2 separate regions of the Homo sapiens genome follow, and region 1 is linked to region 2. Evidence: fine-mapped expression QTL. A gene starts in region 2. The other region holds a variant in brackets. All regions are shown on one strand. Distances are between the middles of the regions.

Region 1 (5,306 bases), 190 kb after region 2:
ATGCCTGGCTAATTTTTGTAGTTTTAGTAGAGCTGGGGTTTCACCATACTGGTCAGGCTGGTCTCGAATTCCTGACCTCAGGTGATCCACCCACCCGCCTCGGCCTCCCAAAGTGTTGGGATTACAGGCGTGAGCCACGCCGCCCGGCCCTTTTTTTTTTTTTTTTTAACAGGGTCTCACTCTGTTGCCCAGACTGGAGTGTAGTGGCGCGATCTCGGCTCACCTCCGCCTCCCAGGCTCAAGCGATTCCTCTGCCTCAGCCTCCCAAGTAGCTGAGATTACAGGCGCGCGCCACTACCGCCCGGCTAACTTTTTTATTTTTAGTAAAGACGGGGGTTTCACCATGTTGGCCAGGCTGGTCTTGAACTCCTGACCTCAAATGATCCACCAGCCTCGGCCTCCCAAAGTGCTGGGATTACAGGCGTGAGCCACCGCGCCAGGCCTATCCCTTAAAATAGTTTTTAATTTGAATAAGGTTTACTATGAATAAATAAATCACAGTCGGCTTGATCCCAAGAGCACAGACGTTCCTGGTGCCCCTTTTCGTGCTCTCCCAGCTTGCGCCACTATGGCCCTGGCCCTTTAAGGCTGAGCGCGAGGCCCCGCCTCGCCCGGCGCCCCGCCCCTCCCGCTGGATCCCGCAGCCGCGGCTCTTCCCGACGCGTTCCGCCTTCCCCAGCTGTGCACTCTCCATCCAGCTGTGCGCTCTCGTCGGGAGTCCCAGCCATGTCCGACGAGAGAGAGGTAGCCGAGGCAGCGACCGGGGAAGACGCCTCTTCGCCGCCTCCGAAAACCGAGGCAGCGAGCGACCCCCAGCATCCCGCGGCCTCCGAAGGGGCCGCCGCCGCCGCCGCCTCGCCGCCACTGCTGCGCTGCCTAGTGCTCACCGGCTTTGGAGGCTACGACAAGGTGAAGCTGCAGAGCCGGCCGGCAGCGCCCCCGGCCCCTGGGCCCGGCCAGCTGACGCTGCGTCTGCGGGCCTGCGGGCTCAACTTCGCAGACCTCATGGCTAGGCAGGGGCTGTACGACCGTCTCCCGCCTCTGCCTGTCACTCCGGGCATGGAGGGCGCGGGTGTTGTGATCGCAGTGGGCGAGGGAGTCAGCGACCGCAAGGTGAGCGGGTTGCGTAGGGCAGGGCAGGGCTGCGCAGGCCACTGGGCAGTGGGGCACGAGTGGGCGAGCGCCGGGGGTGTGGCAGGGCGGGAGAAACTGGCGCGGACCTGGGTGCACGAGCGTGGAAAGCGTAGCCAAGGAACTTGTGTTTGGGGGCTCCTGGAGAGCGGCATTTATGTGGGGAGGGGAGACGAAATTATCGCCCCTTCCCCAACCATTTTTAGTTGTGGCCGCCGCCCAGAAGCTGTGCTGGTGGGGGGGAAAACAATAAGGTGCCCATGCGCATGCGCACAACCACACTACCGTCCCCACCCCCCCCCCCCCCCCCCATTAAAACCACACCTGTACCCCTACCCACCAAACACTCTCTGGGTAATTGTGGTCTGTGACTATGAGTGACGGTTAGTGCCCCCTTTCCCCGAGGGAGCTTGAGGGGCTATGTCGTCGGGGTTGGGCGGGGGCACAGCGGCCGTGCCAGAGTCCTGGTCACATGCAGCCCCGTGGTCTGTGGGGGTGTGAGGCGGCCCCTCCCAAAGCAAGGCCAAAGAGACGAGACACGCCCATCACGGAGGAGAGAGAGCCTTTGCTACCCCACCGCCACCAGCCTTACACCGCCGATCTGATTTTGGGGTGGGGGAGGCGGGATTGGGTCATCCGATCTTTGTCTTGGGCTCTGTGTCTCCCGTGACTGCAGTATCTCCTCCTCCTGTGACTCAGCCCTCAGCCTTCGGGCCACGACCCGGGGCTGCCCTTGGGAATGCCTGGGGCGGGGAGTGGAAGGGGGGACCCACCTCTGCCTTCCTCCTGCAGAGGACCCCCACTTCAGAAACCCCAGTGCCAGGGGTTTGGACTGGAACGGAGAGGTGCGGCGCCTTGAACTGGTTGGCCAAGTCTGCAGGCCTGTTTCTCCTTCTCATTTATCATTAATCTTGGCCACAACCCTGGACACCAGAGAGCTCAAAATGATCAGCTTTTTGAGAGACCTGGGATGAGGCCTCAGCACGCCATTTGTTTAGAGGTTTCTTTTTTTTTTCTTTTTCTTTTTTTTTTTTTTTTTTTTTAGACGGAGTTTCGCTCTTGTTGCCCAGGCTGGAGTGCAATGGCGCGATCTCGGCTCACCGCAACCTCTGCCTCCCGGGTTCAAGCGATTCTCCTGCCTCAGCCTCTCGAGTAGCTGGGATTACAGGCATGCGCCACCATGCCTGGCTAATTTTGTATTTTAGTAGAGATGGGTTTCTCCATGTCGGTCAGTCTGGTCTCGAACTCCCGACCTCAGGTGATCTGCCCACCTCGGCCTCCCTAAGTGCTGGGGTTACAGACATAAGCCACTGCGCTTGGCCAGGAGTTTCCTTTTTAAATCAGACCCCTCAATGAGAGGCCCCACAGATGCAGCCTCTTGCAGACCTGCCAGCCCAATTCTGGAGCCAGGTTTGTTGGATTCATCCTGTATGCAAACAGCTTCTCCTTAAGG[C/A]TTTCCTCTGAATTCAGCTCTGGCCCCACCCTCAAACTGACTTCTAAATGATCCCACTCTTGAGCAGGCGTCTAAGAGGAATATTTTCGGGAGGTAGTTGTAGTTCATGTTACTGCTGAAGGCCACCCACCTCACCTCCCCTCCATACACTTTCCGCCTGGTAAATACAGGATATCCTGTCCAGGGCAAGAATCTGATGTAAGAGCCTGGATTCTGCGGGGAGGGCCCTTCCCTCTCTCTCCCTCCTCCTCCTTCCTGGTGTCTGGGTTGGGGAGGGGTCATGGCCCTGATTTGGATGGCCTGAGGGTTAGCATGAGCCAGGGTAAGTGAGACTTGTTCTGGGTCAAATCTGGGACTGGCCATGACCCTAAATGACCAATGCACTCCTCGCAGCTCTCCTGGGTTGTTCTGTATCTGCTAGTCCTGAGTCCCTGGGTGGAGGGCTTCCGTTCTTGTTCTCCAGACCTCATCTCAGGCCAGAACTTGGAAGGAAAGACCCCAGCATGCCCTCAGTTCTCGTATTCAGTGGAGTGTGGGGGCTTGAGGACATGAAAAAGGGCGTAAGTGGCAGTCCCATCCCCCTTCCCCATGGACCCTAACTCTTGTTAATATACAGAATTCCCATCATTCCTGGCAGGGATCAAGACAGACCCAGATTGTCCCAGAACAGCACCCACACCTCCCTCTTCATGCTCTTCAGAGAGCGCAGAGAAGTCTTTTCTCCTGACGCTCCCTCCTTTTCCCTGCCCTTCCCTTGACCCCACTTGCTAAGCTGGAGAGAAAGGTTCTGTTATCTTTGTCCCCTTTCCCTCCTGCACAGAGGCTCTCGTGGGGGTGGGGGGGAAGCCTTTTACTGCTGCGTAGGCCTCTGTAGCCCTTCTTGTCTGTTGCCCCTCCTGCACCATCTCTGAGTGAAGATGTTTTCTGGGCTCCCAGTGCTGGCTCAAACACACTTCTCCCGAGGTGACCACACCCTGCTGTAAGCGCTCAGAGAACTTTGCCTGCACTTTGGTATGGCCCTGACCACACAGTGCCGTCTTCTTTTGGTTGTGTGACTTCCTTGCTGCTATTATATTATTATTATTATTATTGTTAGCTAACATTATTAAGTGCTTATTATGTGCCAGACATTGTGCTAAAATTTTTTTTTTCCATTTGGAAAAACTGCCCTAATTGACAGATAAGAAAACTGGAGCTGGAAAAGTGGAGCTCAAAAAGATTAAGTAATTTTTATGCATCCGAAGTCACACAGTCAGTAAACAGTTGAGACCGCTTTTGTAACCACAGCAGTTTGATCTTTTCCACAATACTTCATGCTGCCCTAACTGTAAGCTTCTTGCATTCAGGGATCTTACACAATAGTGACATGTAAGATCTGTAAGAAGATGATAAGGATAGTATCTGCCTCAAAGAACTGATGTAAGGGTTAATTAAGCATTATATATAAAGCACTTGAAATCGGGCTCGGCCCTCAGTCAGCACTCAGTAAAGGTGAGTTGTTATTGTTGTTGATGATGATGTTATTATTATTATTATTACCATGACTATTGCTGCTTCTCCTGCTACTTCATTTGGAAGAAGGTAGCCTTGTACCTAGGGGGAAATCAGTAAATAGCCTGTGGGTGAATGAATGAGTGACTGAATGATACTCTTCTGTTCTTCAAGGCAGGAGACCGGGTGATGGTGTTGAACCGGTCAGGGATGTGGCAGGAAGAGGTGACTGTGCCCTCGGTCCAGACCTTCCTGATTCCTGAGGCCATGACCTTTGAGGAAGCTGCTGCCTTGCTCGTCAATTACATTACAGCCTACATGGTCCTCTTTGACTTCGGCAACCTACAGCCTGGCCACAGCGTCTTGGTACACATGGCTGCAGGTGACAGGTCCCCTCACTTTATCACCCCTTACCCCACCCAGATTTCCTTCCAGGCCCCTTCCCTGCAGCCTGTCTGGGTTGTTGTCATGGCAACACCAGGCTGCCTTGGCCTGTGGCTCCCAGAGGCCTCTGCTGTGTAGTTGCCGTGGTAACATTCAGGCACCAGGTCTAGTCTGGTGTGCTATCCTTAGCAACGTGCCCTCACCCCACACCCCCACCTCTCTAGCTACCTTCCCCACCACTTCTCAGTCATGGAAATTAGACACGGCCCTAAAATGAGCGTAGGCAAAATGAAGGTGACAGGCTGAGTCCCTGGGAGGCTAGAATGGAGTGGTTGGTGGCCAGGGCAACTCCATATCCCCTGCTTATGGGTGTCTTGCTGCAGGGGGTGTGGGTATGGCTGCCGTGCAGCTGTGCCGTACAGTGGAGAATGTGACAGTGTTCGGAACGGCCTCGGCCAGCAAGCACGAGGCACTGAAGGAGAATGGGGTCACACATCCCATCGACTATCACACGACTGACTACGTGGATGAGATCAAGAAGATTTCCCCTAAAGGTGGGGGGCATAATATGGGAGGGGGTAGGGAGGCACAGGACAGGGAGGGGAGCTCCAGATCTGTGGATCCTAATGTTGTTCTTGGGTTCCCCTACTCTATGACAGGAGTGGACATTGTCATGGACCCTCTGGGTGGGTCAGATACTGCCAAGGGCTACAACCTCCTGAAACCCATGGGCAAAGTCGTCACCTATGGTGAGTTAGTGGGCCAGGGATGGAGAGAGCATGTGAGGGCAGGAGGGAGGGTCTAAGGGGTGGGATATAGAGGCCAGGGCTTTTGAATGAAGAAGGGG
Region 2 (5,371 bases):
GGTCTGCCTGAGGTTCTGAAGTATCCCAGAACAGCGGACAATAGGTTTTTCATCTCTACTAGAAGAAAAACAAGCAAATCTGAACTGCCTCAGCAAGGGAGGTGCTTAAGAAAAATAACATTTTCAAATCAATTGCAGCCAGGGCCACATGCTTGTTCCCTCCTTCCTGGGAGGACTTGCAGAGCTACCAGATCCTTCCTGTCTTGGAGAGGGGGCCATGCTTTCTGGAAGCAGTGATGCTTAAGGAAGCCCACCAGGTGGCCTCAAGTGACATCTGCTGTGCCCACAGCTGCTGCTTTTTTCTTTCTTTCTTTCTTTTCTTTTTTTTTTTCTTTTTTTTTTTTTTTTTGATAGAGATGGGGTTTCACCATGTTGCCCAGGCTGGTCTTGAACTCCTGAGCTCAAGTAATCTGCCTGCCTTGGCCTCCCAAAGTGCTGGGATTACAGGCATGAGCCACCACACCCGGTCCAGGAGCTTCTAAATCAGGAAAAAATCCTTGGACGTAAGGAGCTGGTACCTCTGAGGCTCAGGCTTTCTATGGAAGAACTAATAGGAAGAAATTAAGGGAGATCAAAACAGGGGAGACAAAGGGAGCAGCCCCCAGGGGCAATGGCTTGTGAAGCTAGGGGAGGAAGGGGGGCTTACGTGTGCTTGGGCTTCAGCCTCTGGTCCCCATAGGGAATGAGAGCCACCAACTGCTTCTCCAGCTCTAGAGAGAGAGAAGGTGAGAGGGAGGGCCAAGATGCAACTGTGACAAATATTTACTGTGCCAGCTTCCCAGAAGCACGCCTCCACCCACACCATAGAGCAATGTTAGAAACATGCCACATCTGCCCCAGAGCAGGACTGGAAGCACTGGACTCTGCTACCAAAGTTGGCAGCTCAGCTTTGCCATCTCTAGAATGGAAGTGAGATTTCCACTAATAGGTATGAAGAATCTCTGAAAGTCACCAGCAAATCAGAGATGCCCAGCATCTTTGGAAAGTTCATTTGTAACTTCCTGAACTGAATGAATCCTAGGACACACAGTGTTGCTCAGAAGCACAGTGGCTAGAATCCTTCTTTCCCACAAGGGGCTGGAGAATACAACCAGGGAAGGAGGGCAGGTTTTTGCAGGGAACCCAAGGATAGTTAAGTATCTCCCTGGCCAGCCTGAGACTGGGAGGTCAAGAGCTGGGAGCAGATCTAACCCCATCCAAGGAGACTCAGAGGGGCTGCCCCAGGCCAACAGGCTAAGAACTTTCCCTGGATTCCAGGCTATTTCCAGAGCCTTGGGCCACTCACCTTGGGGAATCTTGCCACTGCCCTGGCAGGTGGGACAAGTCACGAAGCTGGCATCAGCAGTTCCTTCACAAGGCACACAGGAACAAAAAGACTTGCTGCTACCGGTGCTGGAGTAGTTGACAGCCTTGCTGCCAATGGCTGGTTTGGAGGACAGGATTGACTTGTTCTCATCCTCCCGCCAAGAGCCCAGCTGGGAAAACGTCTTACCCATTCTTCAGGGGCGGGGGTTTCACTAATGAGAAAAGACCAAAGTTCAGTGCTAAGCTTGTTAGCACTGACGCCAGATGTAATTTTGGTTTGAAGTTCTCAAGACTGGCAAGGAGCTTCACCACAGTTTAAGCAAGCTCAAGCCTAAGGAAGATAGGATGTGAAAAACTGGGTGGTCACATGGGACTCTCAGAAGTCTCAATGCATTTCGACTCCTTTCATTATTTTAAAAGAGACCAATCTGCCTACAAAAGGGAAAACAAAAGAAAAGCAGAAGTTACTTCACTTTAAGGAACTTCCATAAGTGATTGTCAGAGCATTTAATTTTTCTCTGGAAAAGTTGCTGAGCTGTCATTCAGTTTAAGGGAAGGAAGTTGGATAGGGCAGAAAAGAGATTCTTTGAATCAAGGAGAGAGGAGGCCAGACTGGTCACAGGTGTGGTTAAGACCCCTATCTAAAGAAGCCCTGGGAGAAAGCAGACACCTCACTGCTTTCTGAGGCGGGGTAAGAAAGCCTGAGGAGGGTCATAGTGATACCAGGGTCTGTCTTTCACTAGGAAAACTCAAGGCTAAATCTGGACTCTGTGTGACAGAACGAGGCCGGCAAGTGAGCCACACAGATCTTTCTGGGCTAAAATATAGGGATGCTCACCTTGTTCAGGTCTGGGATCCCAGGCTCCTCAGCCGCACGAGGGCGAGACTTCTGGAGTGCGTCTTTGGGGAGAAGGGCCTCTAAGGGCAGAGTGGGCTGGGCTGGGCTGAGCTGAGCTGGGCGGTGGTGGGGAGAAGCACCGCCTGGGGCCGGCAACCGGCCGGAGTCCTAGGGGAACGAATGTGCCGCACTGGAGAGTGGGGATAGTAAGGACGCTGACCTCCCCGAAGGGCCAAGCCGATTCCTGGGCTACATGGGGGCTCTGCCATGGGCCGACCGGGTGGAAGCGGACGGAGAAGGTGTGACTTCATTAAGGGAGGATTTCAAGTCCCACCACACACCCCTAGAGGCCGTTAGTCAAGCTTGGTACCCGTGCGGGGGGCGCCTGTGTGTTGGGCGAGGAGGCGGCAACAGGAGGTGTCTTGACCTCCGAAAGGTAAAGTAGGTATAAAGGGTCTAGGGAGGGCCTTACCCGCGGACGACTGCAGCGACAGAAACGGAAGAGAGTGGAATCGAAAATGCGGGAGCGAACACTCCCCTCAAGCTTTGACTCAGTGCCCAGGGAAGTCCCGCCCCAGCCCCTAAGGGCCCACCCCCCCGTCCCCCGGTCCGCCCCTTCGCCACGCAGCAGCCTGAGACGCTGCCAGCTCTTCAAACGTTACCCGAGGGCCCGGACGCTGCTTCCGCAAGGACTAGCCAGTCCGGGTAGGAATTTCCAAGAACATTTATTTCACCATTCTTTAGGTGGTTATGTACAAGTACATACATAACCAGGAGAGCAACCCGGGCCCTCCTGGCCCTCGATTATAAAACTCCGATGGTCAAGACAGGTCCCACCCATCAACCCAATTACACCCTGCCGCTCCACCTTCTACCCGGAAGCCCCGATTAAAACGTTTTAAATAATGAACGGCCTGGCTGGCTTGCAGTTTGAATCCTGGTTTATTTAAGTAGCATTCAGGAGTTATACTGTAAATAAACATCATTATGGCTAATGACTAATTAAAATCACCATTCATTACAAATACCAACCAGGTTAGATAATACTATTAACTATCTTTTCCCCTTCGGTCTGGGGTTCATATTCTTCCTTTTCTGGAAGTCATTTTCATGGATAAAATATTTAGCATTTTTTGTTACCTCTTCCTTCACCAACTGTACTCAACACACTTCTGTAAACAGAGTGAGAACCTGGGTTCATGGACAAGCTCTTTTCCACTTATCTTCGGGTTAAACCAAAACTTTTTCAGCAACTTTGCCCCTGTCCAAGTTTTGCAGAACACCAGCTGCCTCTTCCTGTTCTAGGCATTCTAGGGCTAGATACCTGTGAACGGACTTCAAGCATTAAAGAAGTCATCAGCATTTCCTATACCTCACACACACTCATTTGCCCACCCTGAACTTCACTGACATTAATTTAGGAGCCTGCCTTTTGCCTTTCACATGTTTCTATTTCCCCCACTGTACTGTAAAATAAGATCTGCCCTGACATTAAGAAAAAAGGCAACTGTTAAATTTACTTTTCCCTTTAAATAACGGGATTTTTTCCTTTTCTATAAGATTAGCAAAATATTTCACAATACCTATATTTTTTCCCTTAAATAAAAATGTATGCAAAATTACTATAATAGACATTGCTCAATAGGTGCTGGTAGGTTTATCAGCACACTCTTCCTCCTTTCATTGAAATGCGGAGATTCCCTTGAAGTTGGATACTCTTGAATGCACCATGGAGTCTTTAGAAAGCAACGGTGCCAATTATTAAGTATTGCAGGAAAATTACTTTCTCCTTGAGAGAGGAAGAGTAACAACATTTCTATCATGCTCTGGGTGTTATTTCAATGCCAAATAACTATGAAGCTTGAGGTGGATTACAGAAATTATGAGAATAAGAATTATGAGAATAATTCTTAAAAACAACTTCCGAGGTTAATGTCTTTCAAAACCTGAAAATTAACAGATATCCCCATAAAAAATCCACATTAGCCAAAGAAAAATACTCAGTTTCAATAAAAGCAGAAAGAAAAATGGTTCTATATGAAGTTGAAGTTACACTTGTCAATGCACTAAAATAGTTTTATCCAAATCAACTGAAAAACTGTCTTCATACTATTCATCCAATGTCTAAAGTGAAAATTTAAGTTCTGGTCTTTAGTTTGCTCCCCAAAATACTGTAGCAGGTATTGTCTTGGTAACTCAACGATGGGCTCTATACAGATTCATCAGATTAAAAATAAGCAAGGGCTTCTATCCCATACCCCAATGACAGAATAAAGATCATCTCTGAGCAGCAGGCAGTTATTTAATACAAGGTCACTCCTCAATAGCGTTGGCTGTACCAGTCGTTGTTGTTTAACTGAAGAAGTTCTGTCACAACCTGCAGGATATTGTAATTGTGTTTCTTCAGCAGCCGTAGGTTCAGCTGCCTGTCACAGAATCCCATTTCAAAGAGATGGGCCATCAGGGCTGCTGTCTGATCTTCAGAAATTATTGGCTGTGTAGAGACAAGCAAAGCAAAAAAAAAAAAAAAAATTCTGTATAATTTAAATGTTTATTTTATACATTTGTATCATCTTGCAAGCATACTAGTCTTTCCAGATTTATTCAAAGTACTAGGTAATTAGATTCAAGGCTATGGCACTCCTGTGTACTTGATACCAACGGTTCGGACTGGGAAGGCCCTATTTTAGATTAGTTATCTGTGTACTTGAAGGAGGAGAAAAGGGAAACCGGGGAGCTAATGAACTGTACTTAGAACCAGGAGAATGCTTCACTCGGGGCTTTCAGGAAGAAGCATTTTTTGGCCAGATGAAGGAATGACAGCAAGCCCCAGAGACCCTGTGAACATAAGTGTAATTGTGATGATGGGGGAAGTATGAGCAAGATAAAAGTGTTACTGAAAGATGCTATGGGAAATTTTGTCAGATATGCAGAGGAGCTGGACAAAAAAAACAGCTTGGGAAATTACAACCTGGGAAGGCTTCTTGATTTTTTCTCCTCCAAAAGAATAGGTAAGAGGGGCTGGGTGCGGTGGCTCACACCTGTAATCCCAGCACTTTGGGAGGCTGAGGCGGGCGGATCATGAGGTCAGGAGATTGAGACCATCCTGGCTAACACAGTGAAACCCCATCTCTACTAAAAATACAAAAAATTAGCCAGGCGTGGTGGCAGGCGCCTGTAGTCCCAGCTACTCGGGAGGCTGAGGCAGGACAACGGCGTGAACCCAGG

Evidence for each region. PIP is the estimated chance that this variant, and not a neighbour inherited with it, causes the effect.
Region 1: its variant is fine-mapped to the expression of TMEM106A in monocytes after LPS (Quach 2016, PIP 0.95).

What each region holds. Positions count from the first base shown.
Region 1 is chr17:43,017,743-43,023,048 of GRCh38, reverse strand. It overlaps VAT1 (vesicle amine transport 1), which reads left to right and starts at 664. Exons shown (of 6, transcript NM_006373.4): 1 at 664-1,113; 2 at 4,250-4,457; 3 at 4,843-5,013; 4 at 5,119-5,208. The coding sequence starts at 727. The variant C/A (reference allele first, on the strand shown) is at 2,585.
Region 2 is chr17:43,209,167-43,214,537 of GRCh38, reverse strand. It overlaps TMEM106A (transmembrane protein 106A), which reads right to left and starts at 2,663. Exons shown (of 9, transcript NM_145041.4): 1 at 2,616-2,663; 2 at 2,144-2,311; 3 at 1,286-1,517; 4 at 647-710. The coding sequence starts at 1,496. NBR1 (NBR1 autophagy cargo receptor) reads right to left here. Exons shown (of 21, transcript NM_005899.5): 21 at 2,850-4,637. The coding sequence ends at 4,464.